Regions from separate parts of the Homo sapiens genome. Here regions 2, 3, 4, 5, 6 and 7 are each linked to region 1. Evidence: fine-mapped expression QTL. A gene starts in region 1. Each other region holds a variant in brackets. All regions are shown on one strand. Distances are from middle to middle.

Region 1 (4,066 bases):
TCCCCACTCATTCCAAGTTTCCTGCCAGACTCTAAACCAGGAGACAATTCGTTTGTACTAAGATGACCTTCACCACCGCTGCCCGGTAGCAAATCCCTCTGGCTACCAATAATTCTTATCCTATCCCAACACCTAGGCACATGCTCCACATTCTCCTAATTTCAGCCCCTTTCAAAAGTTGGCCTCCCCGTCCCACTCGGAGTCCAACAGAGAATGCCAAGTGAAGGGTGAACTCGATCAACTGGCTTCGCCGAGCCAAATTTGGGATCCAAAGGACCGTCAAATAAAGTAGGTGGGGCTTTACCTGCAGTTCACACCAGGCGACTTCCACGGTGGTTTCAGTGTCCAGACCTTTGTAGACCGTCTTAAAGGAGCCTCTGCCGATTTCGATGTCAAACTTGAGAAAGCGGCCATCGTTAGACATTCCCACGGCCTTGGTCTCCAGCTCTTCGATATCATCCTGCTGCTGGCTCCGTTCCTCCTGTGGCTCCTTGGCGCTGCCGCCGCCGCTGCCACTTCTCGCCGGCGGCGGCTCCTCTTTGCTCCCCACAAGGCTAGGCTGGGACACTGGGCGGTCTTTGCTGGTACTGCTGGGGACAGTCGAGGGGGCAGGGCCCGCGACGGCCTGTTCCCCAGGGGCGGCAGCGGCTGGAGGCTGCTGGGCTACCTGGGAAGTGGCGGTGGCGGTCACGGTCTCTTCCCGGTGGGGCTCCGGTGGAGCACTCTGCGGGACAGCCGCGGGGATGCTGGGCTGGGGCAGGGAAAGAGGAAGGCCGGGAAGCTCCAGTGCAGTGGCATTGGAGTCACAGATGACGCTCCGGCGGAAGAAGCGGTGCTCAGTGGTGGTAGTGGTCGCGGCCGCCCCACGGCTGTCCTTGTCCATAGTGTGGCGGCGGCGCCTGTACTCCTCGGTCCTGCCGGTCACAGCGTCGGCGGCCGCGGCTCCCAGTTTCTCCCCCACGGAGGAATCGGAGCTGGAGCCATTCTTGGGGGCAGGAGCCGGCGGCGAGAGGAACAGGGAACCGGGAGTGCTGCTCTGCTTCTCTGCGGCGCCGCCAGACATGGTCGGTTCGCTGGAGAGAGGCGAGCGGGCTCGGATTCGTGAACGAAAAGGGCGTGAAGGGCCGAGCCGCCCGCGCAGAGGTCTGCAGGGAACCGCGGCCGGGCGGGTTCGCGCCGACCCGGACGACGCCTCACTCAGCACCGACAAGCCGCAACGAGGGACAGGCGGACCGCTGGGCCCAGCTGCGGCGGGGGCTGGCACCGAGGCTGCTGCGGCTCACGAGGAGGGCTCGAAGGCGGGCGATTCGGGAGCTGAGCCACGGGGGTTAGCGCCGCACGGTCCGCATCCATCCTGCGGCGAGCGGCGGCCGGGCGGGCGGTGGCAGCAGAGGCGCCGCAGTCATGAGGGGAGGGCCAGGGGCCGGCACCGAGTCGAGGCGGATGCGGCGGACGCGGCTCCCACTGCCGCCGCTCGCCGAGCTGGGCGGGCTAGGCCCAGAGGGCGGCGGCACCGCGAGCACGGGACCAGGTCCGACGCCCGGGCGGTGGCGGCCCCGGGGCAGAGGAGTGGGAGGGGCCGAGGCGGGCGAGGGAAGGCCGCGGCCCGGCTCCCGGTCACTCGGGCGGCCGCCTCCTCCCACACGCGCCCCCAGCGATGGGGACCGGCCTCACAGGTCGCCCATCGCCCAGAGGCGAAGGGCCGGAGCCTCGGAGCCTCGGCGCCTGAGGAGCGGGCCCCCCCTTCCCCGAGGCCTCCCCGCCCGCCCCAGGCCTGGCAAACCCGTCTCCTCCCGGGCCGGTGCCGGGGGCTGACGGAGGAGGGAACGGCGGGGAGGGGAGGGCCGCTCACCGCGGGGCCCGAGCTCCGCTGCTTCTCTGAGGCAAGAGGAGAGGAGACCTAGAGGACTGGGTGAGGGGGAACAGGGAGAGAAAAGAGCAGCCACCCCCACCAGGCGCCTTCTGTCACCGAAGATGGGGGTGCGGAGTGGCCGAGAGAGGAGCCGCGTCCACCCGGGAAACTCTCCGCGCTAAATGGCGCCGGGAGTCTGAAGCCTCCACACAGCCCGCTCGGATCCCGCCCCCCGCCGCCCGGAGCAGCCCCACCCCCCAACTCGCTCCGGGGCTTTTGCGCAGGCGTGCTAGCCCCGAGGCACCCTGGGACTTATAGTTTACGGGTTGGCGGGGATGAACGGGACCTAGAAGAAAAGTGCCTACGACTTCCGTGATGCCTTGCGGTTGCTGTAGCCTAATGCCTCGTGGGAGTTGTAGTTTTCTTTGGAAACCGTCCCTTCTGAAAGGCTGATGGGAGCGTCATCACGGGTCGCTCAACCCCATCCCGAAGTCCGCGCGAGCTTAGGAAAATCATTATTTAGGGATTAATTGTGGAAGAAGGAAAGGAAGGAAAAAAAAAAAAAAAAGAAGAGGAACGAGCGGGCGGGGGGTGGGGGGGGGGATGGAAAGACTCCCATCATGCTCTGCTAAGCTAGAGAGCTCTTAGGGTTGCCATGCAATGAAAAATGATCTGTTGTTCATCTTTAATGGAGAGAGCCTCAGTAGTGTTGAGTGACTGCAGGGCTGTGAGGGTGGAAGGGAAGGGCAAAGCAGGATAACCGGAGCCTGAGCTCTGAGTCGGAGGAGGGGAAAAGAAACTTTGTGAAGATTGTGCATGAAATTAATATTGATTAAACGGATTGGAGGAGGAGACACGGAGGATTACCTTCCATCCTCCTCCCCTCATCAATTAAGGCCACATTCTCAGCTCCCGGCCGAGACGGATATTCTGGCTCTCAAAAAAGGGCTGCCTTACTGAAATCGGGGATCCTAGTGAACTCTATCTTTGCTTTGTCTGAAAAATAATAAAAGGGGGGTTGGGGGAGCGGTGGATTCAAGAAAAGATAAGGTCTACGGATCTATGGGTCTTTGACCACACTTGGGGGGCTGGGCTGACTTCTGCCTTTGTAGTTGGTTGAAACTTATTTTCCACCTTTCTTCTGCTGGTGGCTTCGTGAAACAACACCCCCTCTTTCTCTAGAGCTCCTGAATGTCCACATGCAATGTCTACAAAGGCTCTGGGCCCGGGAAATGTGGATCCATGCGGCTTGCCGCCATGGAATGTTTTTCTTGAAAGCATCCTTGTCTGCCTGGACCCCTGTGCTCTTCGCAACTACTCAAGATGTGGAGGGGACGAGCACCAGGGGGCACCAGACCGAGTAGGAAGCCGGACTCGGGAGCAGACTGCAGTTTAAAAGCCTCAGTCCAACCGGTGGAGAGCGGGAAGCGCTGAAAACGTACGCAACCGCATCAGAGCGTCCGGACGCGGCCGCCTCTCTTCAGCGCCCGCTGCGGAACAAGCTCGAAAGCGCGCGTCGGGGCCGAGGACCACGCTGCGAGCGAGCAGCTAGCAAGGAACTCGGCAGGAGGTTCCTTAGCACAGTTATCGGATGAGCTCCACCTACAGAAGTCTTGCCCTGCAGTTCATGTTAATTCATCTGATACGTAAAATACTTAACCCTATTTTTCTTTTCTTTCTTTTTTTGTTGTTTATCACAAGCTACACTTTCAAGTTTACAAAAATGTTTTAAACCAATGATCGTTAGGTTTCATGAAGCTGACAGGTTACGAACATTTTAAAATGCCGATTCAGCAGGGACAACTAGAGTACTAAAATATTAGTGTTCCATTGCTTTAGAAAATGTATCTTTCATTCGTTTGCTATTGGTAATGGTAAATAATCTCATTATGGCAAATGGAATTAAGAGTGTTTTTCTAACCGTAAACCTAATGTAAGCAAGGGAAGAAATGGCTGTAAAATACATTTTTATTGTACTTTTGAGTAAAATAAAACTTACCCAATTGTTGCTTCACTAGGAAAAATAGTCTGATTTTAAACATAAGGCAGCTAATTACAAATTGGCAAGTTAAAAGAAGATCAGTAAATCACAATGTTCCCTTTTGGCACCATGAAAAAATTAGGATATTTTTGTGTGAGTGGTTGTTAAAGGATTTTATTATTGCCTGTTCCTGTTTACTGAGCCCTGAAACTTTGGCCACACTGCATTGGACA
Region 2 (4,066 bases), 29 kb before region 1:
GGAGGCTGAGGCAGGAGGTTCACTTGAGGCCAGGAGTTCGAGACCAGTGTGGGTAACATAGTGAGACCCACCCTACCCCCGTCTCTACAAAAAAATTTAAACATTAGCAGGGTGTGGTGGCACGTGCTTGTAGTCCCAGCTACTTGGAAAGCTAAGGCTGGAGGATCGCTTAAGCCCAGGAGTTCGAAGCTGCAGTGAGCCATAATCGTGCACCACTCACTGCACTCCAGCCTGGGTGACAGGGCAAGACCCTGTCTCAGAAAAAAAAAAAGAAACTATGTTTGGATATATATTGGGTTATATGAAACATATTCATGAAATTAATTCCACCTGTTTTTTTTTAAATGTGGCTACTAGAAAATTTAAACTAGGTTGGGCGCAGTGGCTCATGTCTGTAATCCCAGCACTTTGGGAGGCTGAGGCAGGTGGATCACTTCAGGTCAGGAGTTCGAGATCAGCCTGGCCAACATGGTAAAACCCCGTCTCTATAAAAATATAAAAATTAGCTGGGCGTGGTGGTGCATGCCTGTAATCCTAGCTGCTCGGAAGGCCAAGGCAGGAGAATCGCTTAAACCTGGGAGGTGGAGGTTGCAGTGAGCCGACATCGCTCACTACAATTTTATTTCTATCACTTTCTCCTTGGATTTCAATTAGATTTCAAAATTCCCATTAATTCATAGACTTAGGAACCGCAGAGTAATATATCCAATGTTATTCAACTAAGCCTTCTAAGATTAGATCTCTGATTTTGGAAACATTATTCTATCAAATTGTTCCCTTGGTTTTCTCATCTATAAAATAGGACTGACAACATACTATGTAGTTATTGAGAGAACTAAATAAGATGTACTACAGGACAGCTTAATGGCACTGTTAGGGACTTGCTAGATCAGTCACCCAGCAATGTAACTACTTCTATACTATTTCCTCTCAAAGTGCAACATTCACATTCAGACCTAATAAAATGATAATTAGGTCATAAACTTTCAGGGTCACTTCAGACCAAAAATCTCAGAAGTTACTTTCCAAAGTCAGTCGATGACAATGATTTAAAATTATATGAAACTTCAAACTCAAATGTTAGTCTACCACAGTGTTTGTTACTTGTTACTTAAAATAATCCAGCCAAGTATACAAAATTGTCATTTTCAGATGAAGAAAAAGCCTTAGAAGTTAAGTGAGGAGGATATCCAGATTCACACAAATATTAATATTGCCAGAAAACTTCATTTTAATCATTGGATTTTAAAAATAAGCCACAAATCCCATAAGAACTCAACCACTGGGAGGGGGAACAAAGAAATCTGACAGAACTAGAGAAGACTGGGAATTTTAATTTAAGTTCTCAAAAAAAAAAGTTATCTCAATCATTAGAACACAAAGTATAAACCCCATTTATTTAAAATAAGAGCATATTTATACTTTAAAATTAAATCTGTAGTCTCCACAAAATATCTTTCAAAAACTCAAATCCAAAAAGGTTCTGAAGATTTTTAGTGCCATTGGTTTGTGTTATAGCTAATGCCAGTATTGTGCCTATTAATAAGAGACCAAATAAAAAGCAAAAATAAAACAGATCATTTAATTATAATTTAATTTATCTAATGAAGACCAGCAATTATAAAACTTCACACACACCTAACTTCAGTTGTTATACAAAATCATAATCATTTGTACCTTTCTAAGAAGAAACACTGTGTTCAGAGCTTATGTTATGATTAATGAACAGTGACAGCAGCTAAAATTCATATAGCCACTATATTTTCATTTTGTGGCAAATAGCTATCAACAACTTACTGTATGATTTAATTAAGTGGTTAAAAGGATCTAGCTTCAAGTTTATGCTCTAAGTAAAATGTTTTTCAAAGATGGGCAGTAAACAGTATTTTCCCCCTGTGGAAAAGCAGTTTTTCATTCTTCCAAAAATTGTACCAAGGTAAAGCAAAGCTCTAGATGATGCAGGCATGTTATGTAGGCGTTAGCAGTACTGCCCTCACTATGTGCTCATTGGACAGTAGTGCAACCCCAAGAAAAAGATGGTTAGCAGTTTTTGTTGTTGTTGTT[GTTGTTGTTA/A]ACGAAATAAAACAAAAAACAGCTCATTGCTAGTAAGGAAACTATTTTGTGAAACTTTCTTCTTTTTATGTGTGCATATACTAAGTCACAATGTAAATGTATTTCTTAGAATGAGTCTCAGAAAGGTTTGATAGCCACTGCAAAGTAGTCTGTCTATAGCAAACTACTATACATTCAATAACTAGAGAGGTGTTGCAGGAATCAGACTGTACCAAGGTAAAAATCCTTTTTGACTGTGAGAGGATAAGAAGCATATTTAAGGCATGGGCCTAAAGCTGACAGGATTATCCAACTCTACCACTCAGTTTACTAATTAGACAACAAACTTACCCAAGGTCATTCTTCTATAGTTTGCATTAGAACTAAGTCTCCCACTCTAACGCTCAAAATAAGCTCCACAAAGATACTTCAGCATGTAAGTATTAATTCAGAATTTCCTATTTGGTTTTCAATAACCAAAAGAAACTGCAGCTTAACACATGCAACTGTTTCCTCAAATACTATTCTACCAGATTAATGACCATGCCAGCTCTCCCATTAAAAGCTTTTTCTAGCTAGTTACTTGGTACTTAGGTTTTTATAGCACTTTTCTTTTCCCATTATGCTCAGTAGTGCATGCAACACACTACACTTAGGAATGCAACACACTTCCTTTGGGAATGCCTAACTGTGGCCATAACTATGACTGAAATTTTTGTGAATTTCTATCATCTGTCTAAACTTAGAAGAAAAGTACCACAAAATAAAGTTAAATCAGACCATATTTTTGTGATCAGTGTATCTCACTATTAAAACATTGTATGTATTTTAACGGTTATCATTCAAAACTTGAAGTATATCCAAAATACTCCATTCCCATCTCCTGATAAATAAATCTTCACTGACAACTGATTAAGAAGAGAAACATGTTAAGGACAGAAGTTAAAACGGAATTAGACAAAGATGGGGCAGATTATCACAGCTTCATACTACAAACAAAGGTTTATTTCTACATCCTCTTTCCTAAATATCCATAATAAACTCATATTTCTTGCCAAGAACCCCAGAAAAGGTGCCTCAAATTATTTCCATAAAGAAAACAACATTACCCATTAAGCAACTCTGTTAATGATTATCCACAAAATTCCAAATTTTAAAAAATTGCTTAACATTGGGAATGGCAGAGGTACTGAGCCTTATTATGACTAATCAAGCCAGTGAAGTAAACAAAAAATGCAGGCAAGAGAAAAAGGAAGCTGAGTCAAGTACAGAGTTCTTCGCATCCACAGAGAAAATGCTTTGTTCTTTATTTCTCAAACTTGCAGTATAAAGACCAAAAAAATCCATTATTTTAATTTCACAGTCCAGTCAATTCACACGGCTGTATGTGAATTTTTCTTTCAGAAAATTAAGGGAAAGGAGCCAGGCGCGGTGGCTCACGCCTGTAATCCCAGCACTTTGGGAGGGTGAGGCAGGTGGATCACTTGAGGTCAAGAATTCAAGACCAGCCTGGCCAACATGGCGAAACCCTGTCTCTACTAAAAATACAAAGATTAGCCAGGTGCGGCGCGCACCTGTAATTCCAGCTACTCAGGAGGCTGAGACAGGAGAATCACTTGAACTCAGGAGGCAGAGGTTGCAGTGAGCCCAGATCGTGCCACTGCACTCCAGCCCGGGCTACAAAGTGAAACTATGTCTCAAAAAAAAAAAAGAAAAAAAAAAAACAGAAAAGAAAAGAAAGAAAAGAAAGGCAAAGAAAATTAAGGGAAAGGGAATTTATAGTGTGTCTGTGCATTTTAATATTATAGTCACAGCAACATAACCATATTACTTTCCCAACAGGGAATTCGAAATCTGAAGGCAAATACCACTCACATGTCAAATAAAATAACTGCCAAAAATTTACTCACTAATTTTTCTAAAATTTTATGAAAATGAGTACATTATTCAACTGTTTTGGAGAAAAGCAGACAATATGATTTAGAAAAAACACATAATTAGTGGCAATTTTAAC
Region 3 (4,066 bases), 180 kb before region 1:
TTTTTTTTTTTCCTGAAATGGAGTCTCGCTCTGTCGCCCAGGCTGGAGTGCAGGGTGTGATCTCAGATCACTGCAACCTCCGCCTCCTGGGTTCAAGCAATTCTTTGCCTCAGCCTCCCGAGTAGCTGGGATTACAGGCGCCTGCCACCATGCCCAGCTAATTTTTTTGGATTTTTAGTAGAGAGGGGGTTTCACCATGTTAGCCAGGATGGTCTCCATCTCCTGACCTTGTGATCCACCCACCTCGGCCTCCCAAAGTGCTGGGATTACAGGCATGAGCCACTGTGCCTGGCCGCATAAGGATTCTTTATGTGATTTTTCAGTAGAGGCTCTTGCCTTTTACTTTAAACATTCTTTGAGGGTTGTTTTTTTTTTCCGCTTTTTATTTATATAGAGGTCAACCAGAATCAAGATGTCTGGGACTGAGGAAGCAATTCTTGGAGGACGTGACAGCCATCCTGCTGCTGGCGGCGGCTCAGTGTTATGCTTTGGACAGGTAACTGTGGTTCCTTCATGCCGGGAAAGAATGAGGTGAAGTGAGTAAAGTTAGGGCAAGGCAGTTTGTAGAGCATCGTAGTACATGTGTGAGCAGTACCTAGTACGTTTACCTAGTACGTGTGTGAGCAGTACCTAGTACGTTTACCTAGTACGTGTGTGAGCAGTACCTAGTACGTTGACGCGGTGCGTGCGGGGGCAGTACCTAGTACGTTTACATAGTACATGTGTGAGCTATTTGTTATTGGTTTTTCCTTTAGATGCATTTTTTGGGAGTCTTGTGAACTCTGGAGGGCATTTTGGAATGTTAGCTATCAAAAGACTGATAGTACTGGGGATTAGATTTAGATTTTAAATTTTTTGTGGGGGGGGATAGATAACATATTTGTATGACATCAAATTCAAAATGAAACTGTGAAAATCTCCCTATTTCCTATTGCCCCTGTGTGCATGCCACCCAGTTCTATTTCTTTTTTTTTTCGAGACTGAGTCTTGCTTTGTCACCCAGGCTGCAGTGCAGTGGTGCGATCTCAGCTCACTGCAACTTCCACCCTCTGGATTCAAGCAATTCTCCTGCCTCAGCCTCCCAAGTAGCTGGGATAACAGGCATGCACCACCATGGCCAGCTAATTTTTATATTTTTAGTAGAGATGGGGTTTAACCATGTTGGCCAGGCTGGTCTCGAACTCCTGACCTCAGGTGATCCGCCTGCCTCGGCCTCCCAAAGTGTTTGGATTACAGGCGTGAGCCACCACGCCCGGGCTTAATTTTTTTGTATTTTTAGTAGAGATGTGGTTTCACCATGTTGGCCAGGGTAGTCTTGAACTCCTGACCTCGTGATCTGCCTGCCTCGGCCTCCTAAATGCTGGAATTACAGGCATGAGCCACCGCGCCTGGCTCCAGTTGTCTTTCTTGGAGGCATGGAAAGTTACTGGGGGTCCTATTCCTTGTAGGGACATTGTGTGCACAGAAAAGAGTTTCTTGCTTTGTCCACCCAAACTCCATCTTTGTCTTTAGCAGAGAGTTGTGAGTATTCATCTCATCTGAGCAGGGCAAGGGGGACAAAACCCAAATCAGCAAGCAGTAGTGTGTTTCTGTTTGTGCAGGATGGGAAATTGTTGTATTGGAGAAGGCGTCAATCTCTGGAAAGGACAAATGGAAGCAAGGCTTCCTACCCCCGTGCTCTTTCCGTACTTGCTTCCTGTGCTGACGTCATTTACAGATCTGGAGGCAGAACATTTTAGCTTCCTAAGCTTCAGAAACATTTATAAGGATGGTAGCAGCAGCTAAGGCAGCAGTTCTCAAAATGCAGTTCTCAAAAACCCTGGGGTTTCTGAAGATCTTTCAGAGTCCAGAAGGTCAAAATTATCTTCATAATAATACTATTTGCCTCTTTCACACTCATTGTCTCATGAGTGAATGGTAGAGTTTTCAGAGAGTGCATGATATGTGGTGATGTCACTGCTATGATGCCTAATGGCATGCATGCCTTAAAAGTTTCTCAGTTTTGATTCCTAATAGGATACATAGAACCCACATAAACAAAGGTTCTGGGGGGTCTTTTTAAGAGTATAAAGTCTCCATAAAGGATGGAGACTCAATGATGTGAGGAATGGTGGAAGTGTGAATTTAATTTTCTTTTTTGGGGTTGCAGTGCCAGTACACAGCAGAAGAGTACCAGGCCATCCAGAAGGCCCTGAGGCAGAGGCTGGGCCCAGAATACATAAGTAGCCGCATGGCTGGCGGAGGCCAGAAGGTAGGAGAATTCATGTGCCTGGAAAGCAGGCATCCATACCGCAGACTCCGATGGTCTTGCCAGTTCCCTCTCTGGGTCCTCAGGGATT[C/T]GGAAGTCTGCTGTTAACTGTTCCTGGAGGTCTCCCAGTGCCCCTGGGAGGGGATGGGTTCCAGACTTCATTCTCATCCGAAGGGGCCTGGGCATGGTCTTGACACTCGCATAACCGCCGTCTTAAGATTTTTACATCATCTTTTTTTTTTTTTATTTTTAAAGACAGGGTCTTGCTCTGTCACCTAGGCTGGAGTCCGACCAGTGGTGTCATCTCAGCTCACTGCAGCCTCCACCTCCCAGGCTCAAGCGATCCTCCTGCCTCAGCTTCCTGACTAGCTGGGACTACAGGCACACGCCACCACACCTGGTTAATTTTTTAATGTTCTGTAGAGACGACATCTCGCCATGTTGCCCAGGCTGATCTCGAACTGCTGGGCTCAAGTGATCCTCCCACCTCGGCCTCCCAAAGTGCTGGGATTACAGGTGTGGGCCACCATGCCCAGCCTTTACACCATTAAAAAAAAAATGTTCCTTTTGCCATTTGCTTTTTTTTTTTAATTAAACACTTTTTAAAGAACTTATGATTGACACATAATAATTGCATATCATTTGCTTCTAATTTTAACTTCTGTGTATATTTTTGGTCTTCCATAAAATATGTCAAACAGATTTGTACTTTTTGCAAACTGAATTTTAGCAACTGCTGGGTGAGTTCCTCCTCCCAACAGACCATTCGTTCTCGCGGGCTCCATCTAGAAGATTTTTGAAATAAATTCATTGAGAATTTTCTTGAAAAAAAAATTTTTTTTAACAGACTGGTTCTCACTCTGTCACTTAGGCTGGAGTGCAGTGGCACGATCCTAGCTTACTGCAGCCTTGAGCTCCTGGGCTCAAGTGATCCTCCCACCTCAGCCTCCCGAGAAGAATGTTTAAGGACAGTTTATCGAAAAAAGTAGATGAGGAATAAATTATGTCAATTTTGATTCACATTTAAGTGTGGTAAGGAATTAACACAGCTTTTCCTTAAAAACATTTGTTTTTCTAGGTGTGCTACATTGAGGGTCATCGGGTAATTAATCTGGCCAATGAGATGTTTGGTTACAATGGCTGGGCACACTCCATCACGCAGCAGAATGTGGGTGAGTATGCTCTCCAGCAGTGGGGACTTCTGCACTGTCCAGCTCCTGCTGAAAGTCTGCTGTGGGTGAGGAGGTAAGGTAGGTGGACTCAGCTGCCAGCAGGAGGAATGGTTGTGGCCCAGCGGTCAGTGTCCTCTTCAACTTGCTCTCTTTCCCACTCCTAGATTTTGTTGACCTCAACAATGGCAAGTTCTACGTGGGAGTCTGTGCATTTGTGAGGGTCCAGCTGAAGGTGAGGGGATGGAGTAGACCTGCTGCCCGGAAGGATCAGTGGGTGGTAGGAGAAGGTGAGCAGGTAGGGAAGTAGGTAGCTGGACGGGGACCCAGGCTCCAGAGTTGTGTCTCAGCCAGCGTTCCCTAGAGTGGTGGAATTCAAATACTCTTGCTCATGTGCTCCCTAAAAGAATGGAAAAACTGTTCTCTTGCACATGTTCAAGCTGACACCTAAAAGTTTTCACCATATATAAAAATTGTTGCAAAGGATGTATTTTTTGGCATATGGTAAAATCTGACATTTTAAAATACAATAATTTTACCATCACTGATAAGTGTTTGGAAACTCAACTTTAGGCAAAGCAGGTCCTTTTGTTATAACATTGATGAAAACAAAAATATGTTTTGTTAATAAGTTGTTTCACTTCAAGTC
Region 4 (4,066 bases), 55 kb after region 1:
CTTCACATAGCAACTTTTTTTTTTTTTTTTTTTTGAGACGGAGTCTCACTGTGTCACCCAGGCTGGAGCGCAGTAGCGTGATCTCGGCTCACTGCAGCCTCTGCCTCCTGGATTCAAGTGATTCTTCTGCCTCAGCCTCCTGAGCAGCTGGGATTACAGGCGCCCACCTCCATGCCCAGCTAATTTTTATATTTTTAGTAGAGACGGAGTTTCACCATGTTGGTCAGGCTGGTCTTGAACTCTTGACCTCAGGTGATCCACCCACCTTGGCCTCCCAAAGTGCTAGGATTACAGGTGTGAGCCACCACTCCCAGCCCACATAGCAACATTTTTTTAAAAAATCATTGTTTAAATTATCGAAATGGGGCCTCACTCTGTCACCCAGGCTGGAGTGCAGTCCCATAACCAGAGCTCACTGCAGCCTCAAATTCCTGGGCTCCAGCAGTCTTCCTGCCTGAGCCTCCCACGTAGCTAGGACTACAGACATGTGTCACCACACCTGGCTAATTTTATTTATTTATTTATTTATTTGAGACAGGGTCTTGCTCTGTCACCCAGGCTGAAGTGCAGTGGTACAATCATAGCTCACTGTAGCCTCGAACTCCTAGGCTCAAGCAATCCTGCCTTCTCAGCCTCCCAAGTATCTGGGACTACAGACATGTGCCACCATGCCTGGCTAATTTTTTTATTTTTTGTAGAGACAGTCTCACCAGCCCAGGCTGGTCTTAAACTCCTGGCCTCAAGTGATCCTCCCTCCTTAGCCTCCCAAAGTGCTGGGATTATAGGCGTGAGGCACTAGGTGCCCATCCCACATAGCAACTTCTGTGCTCTTTTAGCCTGAGGAACTAAGAATTCCTTTCAGTTGGCTTACTAGGGCCTTAAAGACTTAATTTGAAAAATGGGTGATTACAGTATACTACCACCCATTCCTCCAGCTCTCCCTGGTTGTTGCTGAAGGAGAATTCAGGTCTCAATTTACCAGCCCTTTATCTTGAGCCATGCAGTCAATTAAAATCAAAATTGAGGCCAGGGAGTTGTGTTCAGAGATTGTAATTCTGTGTACTGGAAGGATCTTTTCTTTGAAATTGACTATTCCGGCTCCTCCCTATGTTTGTAGTTCTTTGGCTGCATGCACTAACTGTCTTCCTGACTTTCTCTGCTGGAGTCAACCTTGCAGACCTGCTATTACTACCAGTGTGTAAAGTTGTGTTAGAAATGCTTGTTCCCTGGTGCTGTAAAGAAATAGCACTTAACATAAATTTAATTTTCTCAGCAAGGCCATTTTCACTTTCTGCAGAAAGGGTACACTCGCCAGCAGTTTTGCCACGAGAGTACACTGAACAAAGGAGACAGGGTCATTTATAATCTGATGCGTCCACCCTACTGCTGTGTCGGTTTCCATTGGCTGGAACAGGACCTCACATTCTGTATTTGTCCCAGTTGGCTAGCAACTTAGAACTTTTTAAGAGAGGCAAAGGCAGAAGAGGACAAAGGAAGGAGGAAGTAACTTGTGGAATGCTGAGAAAGGTAAAAACACCTTCAAATAAGGAA[G/A]AAGAACAGGCTATGACCTAATGCTTGCTTGGACCAGTAGAAGCATGGCAGGGCAAATATTTAGGCTAAATTGTGGGAACTAAGAACATAAAGTACATTGATTTCTTTATTATGGCTAGAGATATTTAAGAATATTAACACAGGTCTTTGAATAAATTTTGCTTCTAAGAGAAGTTACTATTTATTCCTAATTAGATGGGGAGGAAAGTCTTTGAAGAGGAACCTCTACTTTGCTTTTTACAATTGTTTCTTCTAATCTCAACTAGTTTCCCCTGAGGATTGGTAATGTCCAGTAGTGGCTAACCAACATTTACAAAGAGGAAGAGAGGGCTGTAACTTTGGAATTTTAATGGTAAAAACCAAAGGGATTTTAATGGTAAAAACCAATTGCCCTGTTCTAAGCCAGGGAAATTCCTTAACACAGGTTTCAAGATACCTCACCAGCTTTCCCCAGCCTTCCTCTCGCTCCAGCCCACCTTAATTTTTTTTATACTTCAGCTTAGACTGCTTCAGCTAGACAAACCTGATTGCCATTTCCTTTCCCATGCAACTTCCTTCTCTGAAAAATAGAGCTGGAGGAAGTTGAGACGCAGAAAAGAGAAACAAGTTACCCACACCACATTTTGGTCCAGGTTTCCTTCTCCAGCATCACACTTCTATTCCTACTTGAAAAAAGAAAAATAGCTCAGAGGGGTCTCTAAGTCACCCTCCCCACAACCACCTATATCCCCCAAACCCCACCTCCATGCCCCGGATGCAATTGTTTAAAGGGATTTTGTTCTTTATTTTCTTCCCTATAGTTTCCTGACTAGCTGCCTCACCCATTATCTTCATGTTCCTGGGATGTGTGATACAAATAACAATGTATAGCCAATCAATATCTTAGGTTATTTTTATGTAAATTCTTGGTAAATAGTTTAGGAACTGCCTTTTTCTTTTCCTTTAAAAGAAGGAAAAGGCTACTACCACTTGTACCTGTTAGAAGAAATAAAGTTCCAGAAAAAGAAAAGAAAAAAGAAAAACCCACTTGTAGGCAGGTGCAGTGACTCCCACCTGTATTCCCAGCACTTTGGGAGGCTGAGGGGGGTGGACCACTTGAGCCTAGGAGTTTGAGACCAGCCTGGGTGACATGGTGAAAGCCCCATCTCTATCAAAAATACAAAACTTAGCCAGTCTCATAACCCAGTCAATAAATAAATAACTAGATTAAAAAAAAAACACAACTGCTGCTACTGGGAGGATAGATTCAGGGCAACTTGAATCTATGCTTCTGGGTTGCAGTCCTCAAACTTGGCCCAGGTAAACTCTCCACTCAGAATGTATTTTCCTTTAGGTCGATATAGCTGGCGTAAGTCAGCAGGATTCAGAGTGAATCCCCCACAGCAACCACCCATTGTTTTTCTCTGAAGGCAGTGGTTGGTACTAGCACAAACCCATTGCGTTCTCCATCTTCAGAAGTCTCATTGGTGTTGCGGGTGAGTTCTCCTGAATCCAGACTCCCGTTTCTTTGGTGGAGGTCTAGACTTTGAGCGGTTTCTCTTTGACTCTCTCTGAATGAGGGTTCTGTCTCTGACTTTCCTGTTTAAGTCAGGAGATCAGGATATTTTTCTGGCAACTCACAGGTCTGGAGTTAGCAGTTTGCTTCCATTTTCGGCCAAGACATTGTTACATCATGACCTTTCATTTTGGAAATCAAACTTTTATGCATGACCAACCTCTCTTAGATTCCCTTTTTCTAATATATGAGAGTGGATTCTTCACTCCAAAGATAAAAGGCACTCGCTCCCTCCAGCCCGTTAGGGCACCCTAAACAATTAGCGACTTGCTGGGGGTATTGGGACTTTCGTGCCTTAAAAGGTTTCCTCTCTCAGGAGAACATCCGTAATCTCTCTCACTCTGCCAACAAGTGCACATAAAGGCTGGCCACTTAGCACTCGTGAGGACTTTGTGACCCTCTGGGGATCAATGTTTCTGAGACACATAAAAACGTGGACACAACTCAGTAGTGACACACTAAGGAGTCACACTCACAAGCAGCACATTTTGACCCAAAACACAGCCCAGAACTTGGCTGTGAGTGATTCAGGCCTCTAAATTATGGGTAACAAACCTATTCAAGTCTGAAGACTCTCTAACGACGCAGCCTCCCTTGGAAACATCGGCTGATATTCTGTATAACACTTACGGAGCTTTGTCTTGCAGACATTTGAACAAATGGGCCCACAGGACTTCAGATGACCCTAAATTACAATAGCCAAAACGGAGGTCCTTTGATAGATCAGAAAAAAAAAAAAAAGCTATTTTAGAACCAAACAGAATGGGAGACCTACTTTCTACTTGTCCTGGCTGAAATCTGATAAAAGATTTGAAAAGATTTTTTTAAAGAGCTCTATGGTTAGAAATCAGCTTAATTAAAAGCTGATATTCAGGGCATAATTTTTATTGACAAAAAGGGCCTTTCTGCTTTTTCTCCCTGGGATCCCGTTTCTGGGAATTCTTTTTCAGTCAACTGAAA
Region 5 (4,066 bases), 180 kb after region 1:
TGAGCCATGATTGCACCACTGCACTCCAGCCTGGGTTGTAGCAGGGCAAGCCGCAGACAACACCCCTCAGGCACCGAGTTAAAGAAAGAAGGGCTTTATTCGGCCAGGAGCTTTGGCAAGATTCACATCTCCAACAACCGAGCTCCCCGAGTGAGCAATTCCTGTCCCTTTTAAGGGCTCACAACTTTTAAGGGGGTCCGCGTGAGAGGGTCATGATTGATTGAGTAATCAGGGGGTACGTGACCGGGGGCTGCATGCACCGGTAATTAGAACGGAACAGAACAGGACAGGGATCTTCACAGTGCTTTTCTTATACAAATAACTGATTACGTCAGGGGTCGATCTTTAACTACCAGGCCCAGGGTATGGGGCCGGGCTGTCTGCTCGTGGATTTCATTTCTGCCTTTTAGTTTTTACTTCTTCTTTATTTGGAGGCAGAAATTGGGCATAAGACAATGTGAGGGATGGTCTCCTCCCTTAGGGTGACAGAGGGAGATCCTGTCTTAAAAAAAAATAAAAATAAAAGGGTGATCTCGGGGCCTGGTGCAGTGGCTCACGCCTGTAATCCCAACAGTTTGGGAGGCTGAGGTGGGAGAATCGCTTGAACTCAGGAGTTTGAGACTTAGCCTGGCCGACATGGTGAGACCCCATCTCTACAAAAATTTAAAAATTTTTCATTTCTAGTGAGTTTTCAGGTGATGTTGCTGCTGCTACTTCAAGGAGCACACATGGAGAACCACTGGCATATAGGAGAAAAACGCAGGCTTAGGATTTAGACACTGGGGCCATCCCTCAGTATCTGGTGACTTTGGGCATTTGACCTCTTTGAGCCTCAACTTCTTCACTTGTAGAATGGGACTACATCCCAGTTACTTGGGAGGCTGAGGCAGGAGAATTGCTTGAATCCAGGAGGTGGAGGTTGCAGTGAGCCAAGATCGTGCCAAAATATTTATATATATATATGTATATATATATATGAGACTAGTGTTGCTTCTCAACTTATGATAGAGCTACATTCTGATAAACCCATAGTAAGTTGAAAATATTGTAAGTCAAAATGCATTTAATACACTTAGCCTACTGAACTTCATAGTTTAGCCTAGCTTAACTTCAGCGTGCTCAGCCCACTTACACCAGCCTACTGCTGGGCAACATCATCTAACACAAAGCCTACTTTATAAGAGACTATTGAATATCTTGTGTAATTTATTGAATAATGTACTGAAAGTGAAAAAGAGAGTGGTTGTATGGCTACTCGAAGGACAGTTTGTAAAGTGTATCACTTACGATGGTGCGAAAGCTGGGGACCATCTGTATTAATACCTGCTTTGTGGAGTCATGCCTGACATACAGCAATATCATTATTTAATTATTACTGTTTAAATTTTAACAATTTTGTTAGCCCCTGAGGGATGAGTAGGATTGAAGTCAGCAGAGATCGGCTGGGAGGGCTTTGGGGAATGTCTCTGAGAACCTCACAGCTCAAGTGGGCATAGAGCAAAGAGCAAAAGGCCAGATGGGTCTGGAAGCCCCAGGACAAGGCGCTGATTGGGAAAGTGCTCTTGTTTAGGGTGGATATTGAGAGGGAGCAGATCGATTCTTTGGAAATTTCTGTGTGGTAGGTAAATCCACGATTAACTCTGAACCCCGAGATGACAACAGTCTTTTCTGAAAGCCACTGGCAAAACGGCCTCTTGCAGGGGAGGTGGAAAATGCTCCCTGAGAAAGAGCACGGAGGCCGGGGTGGCGGCTCGCGCCTGCAGCCCCGGCACTTTGGGAGACTGAAGCAGGAGGGTCGCTTGAGCCCCGAGGTTGAGGCTGCAGTGAGCTATGACGGGGCCACCACCCCGCAGCCTGGGCGACAGAGCAAGGGCCTGCCCCAAGAAAACAGTAATAACTAAAATAAATAAGCAAGCAAGCAGGCCCGAGTTCCGGTTTCAACGCACGTGCTTTCCTGTTCTTCCCTACACACTCTGCTTCCGTTTGTAATTTATGGCCCCCTTTTGTTGGAGAGAAACCCGTCCGTGTCCTCGATCACAAAGGGGTCAAAGCCCGGGTGTGCCCGCGCGGGCGGGTTGAGCTGGGGCCTCGCCGCGCCGTTTCCTGGCGCCCCCTGGTGGACAACGGCGGCGCCGCAGGCC[T/C]TCCGGGGAGGCCTCGCCCCACGTGGCCTCTCGGTGCTGCAGCTTTAGGCCCCAGTTTGCAGCTCGGGGCAAGGGCTGGAACTCTCAGTGAGACTGTGCCCAGGGCTCAGAGGCGGTTTCTGGACCAGTTACGTATTATTGCTGGAATAACACGCAAAAGAAACCCCACCCCGACGTGGATTAGAGACTGTTGATTTTTAAGGGCGAGATCACTGCTCTTGGCTGCAGTCAGGAGCCTGCATGCGGCCTGCCCCAGACAGAAGGCCTCAGGGGTCTGGGCTTTTACAGCTTTTGGCCTGAAGACCAGCTGCAGCTTCCAGCCCCAGTCATTCATTCCCTGAGGCTCCCTCAGGACTGCTGAGAAAAGGCAGGATCTAGGGGAAAAAGGGCTCTCCCTGCAGTGGGGGTGTTTAAGAGCAAAGATTCACTCCCCAAACTCCTCTCCCCCACCCAGAAGCCACTGTGCCTGAAGCCCCACCCTTAAAGAGCCTTACTTTTGCCTTTTTTGAAAAAGCTGTCTCATAAAAATTCAATGCGATCATCATTCATTGTGTACCTCATGTGGGCAAGGTGCTGAGCTAGGCTCCATGGAGACTCAGGCCTGTGGAAGATGGGGTCCGTGTGCTAAAGTGGGCAGCAGAAGGAGCCGTCTCAGGAGGACTCAACAACGCCCAAGGCCAGCACAGGCCAGGGAGCAGGCGACCTTCTTTCAAACAGGGCCTTGGTGGAGTGCATTTGGGGACAGGGTCTAGAAAGGAGGGGAGGCTCTCCCTGGGGGGAGCATGGTGAAGAAAGAAAGGCCTGTAGTCCTGGAGCAGAGCAGGAGCAGCTGGGAAGGGTGGGGTGTGTTCAGGGAACAGTGAGTAATCTGGTGTGGCCCTGCACGTCTGAGCATCACAGAGCCTGGCACAGGGCACAGGGTTCGCTCTTCAGGGGTGGGAGGAGGAGCTGGGGACCAGGCTAGAGAGGTGGGTGGGGGCCCCAGGAGAGAGGACTACGCTTGAGTAACAATGACCCTGGAGACCCAATGCAGGTGGGCTTGTGTGAGTGTTTCCCTTCCTGCAGGCGGCTCGAAGGCGAGAGCCAGCAGGAGCGAGGAGAGAGGCTGCCCAATGGGTACAGGAGGCATTTCAAACACCATGGAAGTTGTTAGGACCATAAATGGTGCCTACTTCAAAACTGGGGCTGGGACGGGCCCTGAGTCACAACACAGTATTTGAAATGCCTCTAGGCCCACACGTGGGAGTATAATCCTCTGTGGGATAGATTTCCCTCTCATCTCATATTTGTTTAATACTTCACAGCTTTCAAAGCACATTCACCCACATGATCCTATTGATCTTTCTAACAGCACTTTGTGCTAGACAGGGCAGATATTATTCCCACTTCAGAGGAGGACCAGCTAGGGTCTGGGTGAGATGAAGTCATAAATTCACTTTTGTTTTAACATGTTTATCTTAACCACTGGCCTTCTGGGGGTATGTCTTGGTCTGTTTTGTGTTGCTATAACAGAATAACTGAGACTGGGTGATTTATAAACAATAGAAGTGTATTTGGCTCATGGTTCTGGAGACTGGCAAGTCCAAGAACATTGCACTGGCATCTGGTGAGGGCCTTCATGCCACATCCTTCCCTGGTAGAAGGTGGCAGGGCCAGAGAGCTTGCAAGCCCAAGAGAGAGGAAGGGAGCCAAGCTCACCTTTTTTTTTTTTTTAATCCTGAGATAACCTGACCCACTGCCATGATAATGGCATAAATGAGGGCAGAGCCCTCGTGACCCAATTGCCTCTTAAAGTTCCCACTTCTCAACACTATTACAGCAGGGATTAAGTTTCCAACCCATAAACTTTAGGGGGCACATTCAGACCATAGCAGAGTGCATATTTGCTTTTGTTACAAATTTATTATTGTTATTATTATTATTTT
Region 6 (4,066 bases), 67 kb after region 1:
TATGCTCTTCCCTTTTGGAATTCAGGAAAAGCTGACCAGCATTAACATTAACACAGATCTTAAGTCTTGTTAGTCTAAAAAGAAACATTTGTAATCTATTCTCTCTGAAGCCTGCTGCTTGGACGATAAAGTCTTGGTCTCCACAACCCCTTATTGTAACCTAGACATTTCTTTCTATTGATAATAACTCTTCAACCAATTGCCAATCAGAAAATGTTAAAATCTACCTATAACCTGGAAGCCCCCTGTTTTGAGATGTCCCACCCTTCCAGATCAAACCGATGTAAATCATACATGTATTGATTGAGGTCTCATATCTCCCTAAAATGTATAAAAGCAAGCTGTATCCTAACCACCTGGGGTGAGACTGTGTCATGGGTGCATTCTTAACCTTGGCAAAATATACTTTTTAAATTGAATGAGATTTTCTTTCTTTTTTTTTTTTTTTTGAGACTGAGTCTCACTCTGTTGCCCAGGCTGGAGTGCAGTGGTGCGATCTCGGCTCACTGCAACCTCCGCCTCCTGGGTTCAAGCAGTTTTCCTGCCTCAGCCTCCTGAGTAGCTGGGATTACAGGTGCGCACCACCATGCCCGGCTAATTTTTGTATTTTTAGTATAGTTTCACCATGTTGGTCAGGCTGGTCTCGAACTCCTGACCTCATGATCCACCCACCTCGGCCTCCCAAAGTGCTGGGATTACAGGCCTGAGCCACTGCGACTGGCTTGAATGAGATTTTCTCAGATACTTTTGGGTTTGCACACCAAAGGCTGTCCTCACACCTTTTGAATCTCTCTTGAAGATTCATCTCCTAAGAAACCAGACCTTGCTAATCCTCGCCTGGCTTTAATCATCTCATTTATTCCAAGATCCACTTTATCCTCCAGGCATAGAATTATAGACCGTAGGATCCCAGAAATTTCTGGCTTAGAAAGTCATTTCGATTTTTACAGATATGGACCACAACTAGCCAAGTGATTAGTCTAAGATCACTACGTGAATGATCTTAACTCACGTAGTTAAGGGACAAAGACAAGTCTAGAACCCAAGTCTTTGAGTCCTTAGCTCAAGATTATTTTCACTACGTGGAGATCTATTATTTGTGCTCCTTTTCTCTATCTGTATTCTTATGTTTTTTCAGGAGACCCATCCTTCTCAATTCTTTTATTGCTGTTACCATCATCTTTAGCATCATAATCAACATCATCACTTCAGCTGTTCCCAGAGCCCCCCTACATGGTGCCAGTGGGTACTCTATAACCATTCCTGATAGCACAGCTTCTTAACCCTTTTTCTCTATGCCAAATGATTACATGTTTATCGCCCTGTAAGTATCAATCGTCTTCAAGACTCAAGGTGACCAAAGTTGGTAGAATGAAAGAAGCATTGTTACTGATGCAGGAAACCCAATGCTTTATTTCAAATGTCAAAATACAACTTGCCGTACTGAAAGAGCAGGAAAGCTGGGACTATAGTGGCCACAGTATCAGGGAAGTTGACCCAGCTCTTGCCCATTAGAAATCATAGGAACCATTGAGTGTGAGGATGCTGGATTTCAGAAGGACCTGTTAATTGCTTACACCGTGACCTACCCTAGCTATAATGCACTGTGCAGCAGTGAACTCCTGACTCTAGCTGGGCCAATCTGACTTGCTAATGGCAGCTTAGAATTGAGGCCTGGAAGCACTGGGCCTTGTCCGGTAGGGGCTAGAATTGTGAAGTGATGGCCGGGCATGGTGGCTCACACCTGTAATCCCAGCACTTTGGGAGGCCGAGGCGGGCAGATCACGACGTCAGGAGATCGAGACCATCCTGGCTAACACAGTGAAACCCCATCTCTACTAAAAATACAAAAATTAGCCGGGCGTGGTGGTGGGTGCCTGTAGTCCCAGCTACTCAGGAGGCTGAGGCAGGAGAATGGCGTGAACCCGGGAGGCGGAGCTTGCAGTGAGCCAAGAT[C/T]GCACCACTGCACTCCAGACTGGGTGACAGAGAAAGACTCTGTCTCAAAAAAAAAAAAAAAAAAAAAAAAGAAGTGATGTAAGGCTAGGGCCAGATGGTCATGCCTGGTGAAGCTCAGAAAGAGAGAATGAAGGAGAACCTCAGAGAAGCAGAGATGAGAGACCCCAAAAAACAAAGAGCAGTCATGGGTCCTGACTCCCACTCCAGCTCCCATCTTTTGGTGGTCTGTACAAAACCCAGTATCTACAAAAACCCTTCTTTCTTTTTTCTGCTTGACTTGAACTAGTTGAGTGGGTTGCTTTTGCAACCAAGAAGTCTTAACTAAGACCTTCCCCTTCTCTACAGAGCTGAAAGATGAACCAGGCAGCTGTGCACAGTTGGAAGGTCAGGGAGAGGGTTGCCAAGAATTTAAAGATATTGTTTCCTTCTCTGTAGGAGATGGTGCTTGTCAGTCTGTGATTTTCTGTGAATCAGATCTCACAATCACAGACATGCCTCTCTGCCCCCACCTCCCCACCGCAGATAAACATAGCAACCGTTGCCAACCTTCAGCCTTCACTCAACTTCATTTCCTCTCTTGCACTTGAGCCTAGAGGAGTCAGAAACAAGCTCAAAGGCTTGTTGATGTGAGTCTGCCAGGCATGGTGGTACACGCCTGTAATCCCAGCTACTCAGGAGGCTGAGGCAGGAGGATCTCTTGAGCCCAGGAGTTCAAGGCTGCAATGAGCTATGATCACGCCACTGCACTCCAGCCTGGGTGACAGAGTGAGAGTCAAAACAAAACAAAATAAAACAAACAAAAAGCCTGGTTAAGGTGAATCTAACTGGGCTTTGGCTTACCTTCTCTTTTTTGGGAGGTAGAAGGTTTTTGGAAGGTAGAAGGATGTATTGCAATGATTCCCCAGCTTCATTCACTAGCACACCACCTTCATGATTTTTGACGTGTCCACATATCAGTTGTACTATTATTTTCTTAATTAGACTTTCTTATTTTCTTATCTTCACCTATGATATTTTTTAATGGAACCATGGCTTTGCAATACATATGATGTTTTTTCAAATATACATTAAAATGCAAAACTATTAAAATAATTTTTTTTTTACCACCTAAGATTATTTTATGTGTACTACCTTAGGAAACAATGTCATGTAGGCTTTGGAATCAGGCAGGCTTGTTCAGGTAATACCTGTATGTCCTTGGGCAAGCCACACTCTCTAACCTCCAATATTGTCATAATAAGTGTGTCTTCCTTAGGATTTTGGTGAGGGCTAGATGGGTCAGTTTGTGTGTGTGTGTCTGTGTGTGTGTTGCGTGTCTGTGTGTGTAGATGTGGGTCTCACTGTGTTGCTCAGGCTGGTCTCAAACTTCTGGGCTCAAATGATCCTCCTGCCTCGGCCTTCCAAGTGCTGGAATCACAGACGTAAGCCACTGCACCCAGCCCTAGATGGGATGATTTAAACACTGTGTTTCAACTGCCTTGCACGTGGGTAACACCTAGTAAGTACTCAGTCACTGTTAACCATTGCTGTTCCTGCATTCTCTATTTCTGCACTTTGTCTGCTTCTCTGTATTTCCTTTCTTTCCTTTTTGGTCTGTTTGCAGCAGGAACCAGCATGGAATGGGTTTGCTTACTGGAGCATATGAAATGTATGTAAAGCCCTCAGGGACCAGGACAGAAAGCTAAGTGTGGTGCCTCTGCGGGGTCCGGGTGTGTATAATAGAATCTAATGATGTGACTTGTTATCCCATCGTGCTTGTGTGGTTGAGATAATAACATTGTTTCTATAGAACCTGCTTTAAAGGGTCAAAGCCCTCATGGACATTATCTAGCTCATCTCTCTTAAGTGTGGACAAGTGTTATCGTCCTCGTTTTTCAGGTGGAGAAATCAAGACCCCAACAGAGGGCTGACCAGGTTACTCAGCAATGCTGTGGCAGAAACACACAAAAGAGTCCGTGGCTTGTGATTCACAGGCCAAGACGCTGCCTTGGCGCAGCACTCCCCGTGTTGACGTGGAAGGTGGTGATGGCAGTGAGCAAAAAAGTGATCCATGCACAGATGCATTTGTGAACGCCGGATGAAACAAAGTTAAAATAGGTGGGTTTTTTTT
Region 7 (4,066 bases), 130 kb before region 1:
TAATCTAAAGGGCATATAAAGACCACATTCTTGAAATGAAGTAGTAGACTGGTTCCAACAGAAGAGACAGGACTCTACAATACTACTTTATTGTCGGTTATCTTCACCTAGAGATGATTTAAATAGGAGGAACACAATTTCTTCCTAGCCAATCTTAAATGGAAAAATGCAAAAATTCTTCCACATAACAGTCATATCATGAAATGCTAATTTTCCCAGTCTAAACCCCGAAGCTTTTTGTTGATACCATGTTGGCTATTCTATTTATTCTACCCATATATGTAAAAGTTGCCAGGTGTACTATTAACCACATCTAGCATTCAATCAGCTTACAGTGAATACTGAGAGAACCATTTTTCTCTGAAGAAGTGTCTTGAGAAAAATGGATCAGGAATCACTGAACATCATTATCCAATCCTTTCTCAGAATTTTACTATTTTGCTTCTCTAGTTGACATGTTATTGCTAGTTATTCTGACACTCAACTATTAGATTTCCATGTTCCTGATGATCTACTAGGATCAAACTCTGTGGTGCCCTCTTTTGCTAACTAACACAATACCTGGTACAGAACATCTCCAGAGGAAAGTGGAACCTCAGCAGCTTGTCCAAGGTTAGCTGGTATTCCCATGGACTGAACTGCTGGTTGTAGGAGCTGTGGGTGAACCTGACTTGGCAGCTGAGTCACAGGCTGCAGAAGGGTTGGAAGCTGACTAGGAACCACAGTTGATACCCCCGGGATCGCAGCTGTTGTAGCAGATGAAGCCAACGTGAGCAGAGGCTGAGTAATGCCAGCTGCCATTGTGATGGGAAGGGATGAGAAACCTGTCTGAGCCGTAGACACATGAGGAGTTGATATGGGAATCTGAGAGACAGGGTACTGAGGGAGCAAGGGAGTAGGGAGCGGCTGTCCCACTGGAAGGAAATGAGCACCAGAGTGGACTGGAACAACCGAGGGTTGTGTCGCAACTGGGATCTGAGGTTCGCCTTGGATAGTTGGTACTGGCTGGGAAACTGGAAGCTGGGAAGGTAAAGAAAAACAAAACAGACAGGCTTAAAAAAAAAAAAAAAAAAAAAAAAGCAAGGCTGCCAAAAGCAAGATTTATGTATTAGCCAAAAAGAAGGAAAAAACAAACAAAAAAAAAAACACCAAACCAACAAAACCCTGCATACATTAGTGTTAAGTTAATATGCCACATAAGAATATGGAAAGGAGAGCAGGAGAGAAAGAGGCTAAATAGACTATTACTGTTCTACACCTTTTGTCATAGAAATATTTGCTAATGCTTCAGCATTTGGCAATAGAAGAGGACCCTTCCATAGACAAGGGGTTGGCTTTTTTTTTTAACAGCTTTATTGGAATATATTTTATATACCATAATGCTATCACTAAAGTTACGACTGCTGTTACAGTAGTTACTGAAATTCAAATGAATTCCTTCCCAGTGGAATTAAGATTTCATTCGTATTATTTCTAAAATTCTTAAGTCCAACATGGCTCAATAAAAATTGGTATAATTCACATATTTCACTCATTCTAGGATGCAATCATCCCTCTCCACTACCTGATCATTTTAACATGTGAGAAATTGGGATCTACTTTATAACTGATAATGTGGTACATAAAATATGGTACATTTTAAAGTTGATAGCATCTCAGATGTGATGAAATATTAGGGTAACAATACACTGTGCACATACATGCACAACAGTACTCAAAAATAAAGTTGAAAAAAGGTCATTCAGAAAAGCATACCTTCTACAGGGTACTTCTCAAGTGATTAGGAGGACTACTTAAGAAAAAAAAACATTCCACACAGTAAACAGTGCAGAAATCTACATGAAAATAAAGCATAGTTTCAAACCTAGAATATCAGACATAGCTGACACAATTCTAGGGAATGTCATAGGTTCAGTTACCAGAGCACCTTTATTTAACCTGTTATTTCTAATACCTGTTACATCAATTTTGGACTGGTAAGACTAGAAGTGAAACTTTGGATTGTCACTGCTGTCAGTAACGTACCCATTTACATTAAATAATGCATATGCACCAATGAGGTGATCTTCACTTCATTTCTGCAATGAGATTAACCTACTTCAAGGGTTGGTTACCCTTAGAAGAAAAGGTAGAAGTCTATCCACATGAAAGGACAAGTTACATGGAAATCCCTTTTAGCACCCTTTCAGAAATTAAGAGTTTACCTGTTTAAAAAAAAAAAAAAAGTTTACCTGTTTTCCAGCTGATACTTGAGGCAAGACTTGTGGAGCTTGAGG[C/T]TGACTCACTGGCTGTGCAGTAGTGGCCTCACTGGAGGTTGATGTCTGTGAAAGTGAATACTGCACTGTCTGTTGAGGAGGGGCTGTCTGCTGTATTCCCTGCTGCTAAGAATAAAATACAATGATTCAGTTTTATTTCAAATCAATAACAGCATGTTTCTAAGGAAGCATGTTTACCTAAAGCCTTCAGTGTCTGTAAATAATGATGATTTTAGTAATCAAGACATGCACAAACCCAAATTCATCAATTTCCATTATATATTTGTTTTCCCTCTGATGTTCTTTGTGATGGTGCCACCAGGAAAAATTAACCAATCTTTTAATACTCAAGTTACCATTGGCTCTTCACCCAATTATCTCCCTCACCCCAACAATAGGTCTTTACAAAGACATTTACATAACATATCCAGACAGTTCCTTTCCCCATCCCATCCCTGCCATTCCCTTTTCCCTATCTCTTGGCATCAGCTCTCTCTTTGGCACCTATATCAGATAGATCCAATAGCTTCCTTTAATCTTTTTTCCTTACCCTATTTTATCAACTGTATAATTAATATGCTTGAAGAATAGCTTTGATTATAGCTACAAAATAGGGAGGAAAGCACTGGATTTGGAATAACAGACATTTTCAAATTTTAGCTTTAATATTTACTAGCTGTTAATGCCTTAGATTGCTTATTTTATTAAAAAAATGAAGTTTCTCTTTTTGAAACAAGGACATTATTTTTTAACTCAAAGTGGGGCAAAGGGAATGACACCTGGGAATCTACTATGTACTAGGGACTCAAGTATAATTTAATGCATGGTGCGTAATTATACACCTAATTTAATGCATGGAACATAACTGTACTCGAATACTAAATTCTGTAATAAATCAAGCAAACAAAACCAAACAAAACAGGACTATGACCCCTAGAGTACTGCCCCTTCTGTCTAACAAATAAAAACTTGAGGCTGGGCGCGGTGGCTCACGCCTGTAATCCCAGCACTTTGGGAGGCTGAGGTGGGCAGATCACCTGCGGTCCAGAGTTCAAGACCAGCCTGACCAACATGGAGAAACCCCATCGCTACTAAAATTGCAAAAAATTAGCCGGGCGTGGTGGCACATATCTATAATCCCAGCTACTCAGGAGGCTGAGGCAGGAAAATTGCTTGAACCTGGGAGGCGGAGGTTGCAGTGAGCCGAGATTGCACCATTGCACTCCAGCATGGGCAACAAGATCGAAACTCTGTCTCCAAAAAAAAAAAAAAAAAAAAAAAAAAATGAAGTTTAGGGCTGACTTTCAAGATCTTCTAATACCTAATTTATATTTTTTCTTTAATACAACATCTGCTTGTAATAAAAATTTTAACTAGTACATCATATTATAAAGTTAATGAAAATACCCCTAATCCTATTCTCCAGAGGTAACCACTATTAGTCGTTTGGTGCATAACCTTCATGGATTTTTTTCTATGCGTAAGTGGCCATTTTCACATAGTTTTCTTTTTTTGTTAAAATAAACAAAACAAAAACATGCCTTTCCTATACATAGTGTTCTATAGCATACTACTTTAATTTCTAAATGGCATCAGTCTCCTAATGATAAACACTTTGGTTGTTTCATTTTTGCTACTTAAAATAATGCTGCAACCAACAGCCTTTTACGTATGTGCTGGTATACCCATACGACTAATTGGTTACTGCTGGTATAAAGATAAGCTATTTATTTGTACATTTATTATGTATCTTGCCACCTTGATAAGTGTCTTAGATTTTGTTAGGTGATAATCTACAAATAATATTTTTG

Alleles and levels. Alleles are on the strand shown, and positions count from the first base shown. SD is a standard deviation of normalised expression in the study named. Not every link is listed here.
For the expression in monocytes of the gene that starts at base 2,050 in region 1, allele A in region 2 goes with a higher level than allele GTTGTTGTTA (large effect, 0.80 SD a copy in Quach 2016).

The links.
Region 2: its variant is fine-mapped to the expression of WNK1 in monocytes (Quach 2016, PIP 0.95).
Region 3: its variant is fine-mapped to the expression of WNK1 in whole blood (TOPMed, PIP above 0.99).
Region 4: its variant is fine-mapped to the expression of WNK1 in whole blood (TOPMed, PIP above 0.99).
Region 5: its variant is fine-mapped to the expression of WNK1 in whole blood (TOPMed, PIP above 0.99).
Region 6: its variant is fine-mapped to the expression of WNK1 in whole blood (TOPMed, PIP above 0.99).
Region 7: its variant is fine-mapped to the expression of WNK1 in whole blood (INTERVAL, PIP 0.94).

The regions. Positions count from the first base shown.
Region 1 is chr12:750,563-754,628 of GRCh38, reverse strand. It overlaps WNK1 (WNK lysine deficient protein kinase 1), which reads right to left and starts at 2,050. Exons shown (of 28, transcript NM_018979.4): 1 at 305-2,050. The coding sequence starts at 1,063. RefSeq lists enhancers at 600-1,318, 1,319-2,037, 2,795-2,844, 2,895-2,994 and silencers at 1,155-1,534, 1,545-1,924, 2,005-2,154.
Region 2 is chr12:779,108-783,173 of GRCh38, reverse strand. All of the region lies in intron 1 of WNK1 (WNK lysine deficient protein kinase 1), which reads right to left. It also overlaps the pseudogene RNU4ATAC16P. Among named protein-coding and RNA genes, the nearest start is that of WNK1, 29 kb to the right of the region's middle. The variant GTTGTTGTTA/A (reference allele first, on the strand shown) is at 2,065.
Region 3 is chr12:929,405-933,470 of GRCh38, reverse strand. RAD52 (RAD52 DNA repair protein) reads left to right here. Exons shown (of 12, transcript NM_134424.4): 2 at 395-496; 3 at 2,150-2,251; 4 at 3,327-3,420; 5 at 3,585-3,652. The coding sequence starts at 413. It overlaps LOC124902855 (a long non-coding RNA gene), which reads right to left and starts at 2,158. Exons shown (of 2, transcript XR_007063155.1): 1 at 666-2,158; 2 at 1-630. The variant C/T (reference allele first, on the strand shown) is at 2,340.
Region 4 is chr12:695,652-699,717 of GRCh38, reverse strand. All of the region lies in intron 1 of LINC02455 (long intergenic non-protein coding RNA 2455), which reads left to right. All of the region lies in intron 1 of LOC101929432 (a long non-coding RNA gene), which reads right to left. Among named protein-coding and RNA genes, the nearest start is that of LINC02455, 19 kb to the left of the region's middle. The variant G/A (reference allele first, on the strand shown) is at 1,552.
Region 5 is chr12:574,328-578,393 of GRCh38, reverse strand. All of the region lies in intron 1 of NINJ2 (ninjurin 2), which reads left to right. Among named protein-coding and RNA genes, the nearest start is that of NINJ2-AS1, 55 kb to the left of the region's middle. RefSeq lists a silencer at 2,000-2,269 and an enhancer at 1,798-2,299. The variant T/C (reference allele first, on the strand shown) is at 2,142.
Region 6 is chr12:683,982-688,047 of GRCh38, reverse strand. LINC02455 (long intergenic non-protein coding RNA 2455) reads left to right here. Exons shown (of 4, transcript NR_187480.1): 2 at 3,835-4,053. Among named protein-coding and RNA genes, the nearest start is that of NINJ2, 23 kb to the right of the region's middle. RefSeq lists enhancers at 2,244-2,333, 2,604-2,723. The variant C/T (reference allele first, on the strand shown) is at 1,957.
Region 7 is chr12:876,527-880,592 of GRCh38, reverse strand. WNK1 (WNK lysine deficient protein kinase 1) reads right to left here. Exons shown (of 28, transcript NM_018979.4): 10 at 2,232-2,381; 11 at 562-1,020. Among named protein-coding and RNA genes, the nearest start is that of RAD52, 71 kb to the left of the region's middle. The variant C/T (reference allele first, on the strand shown) is at 2,277.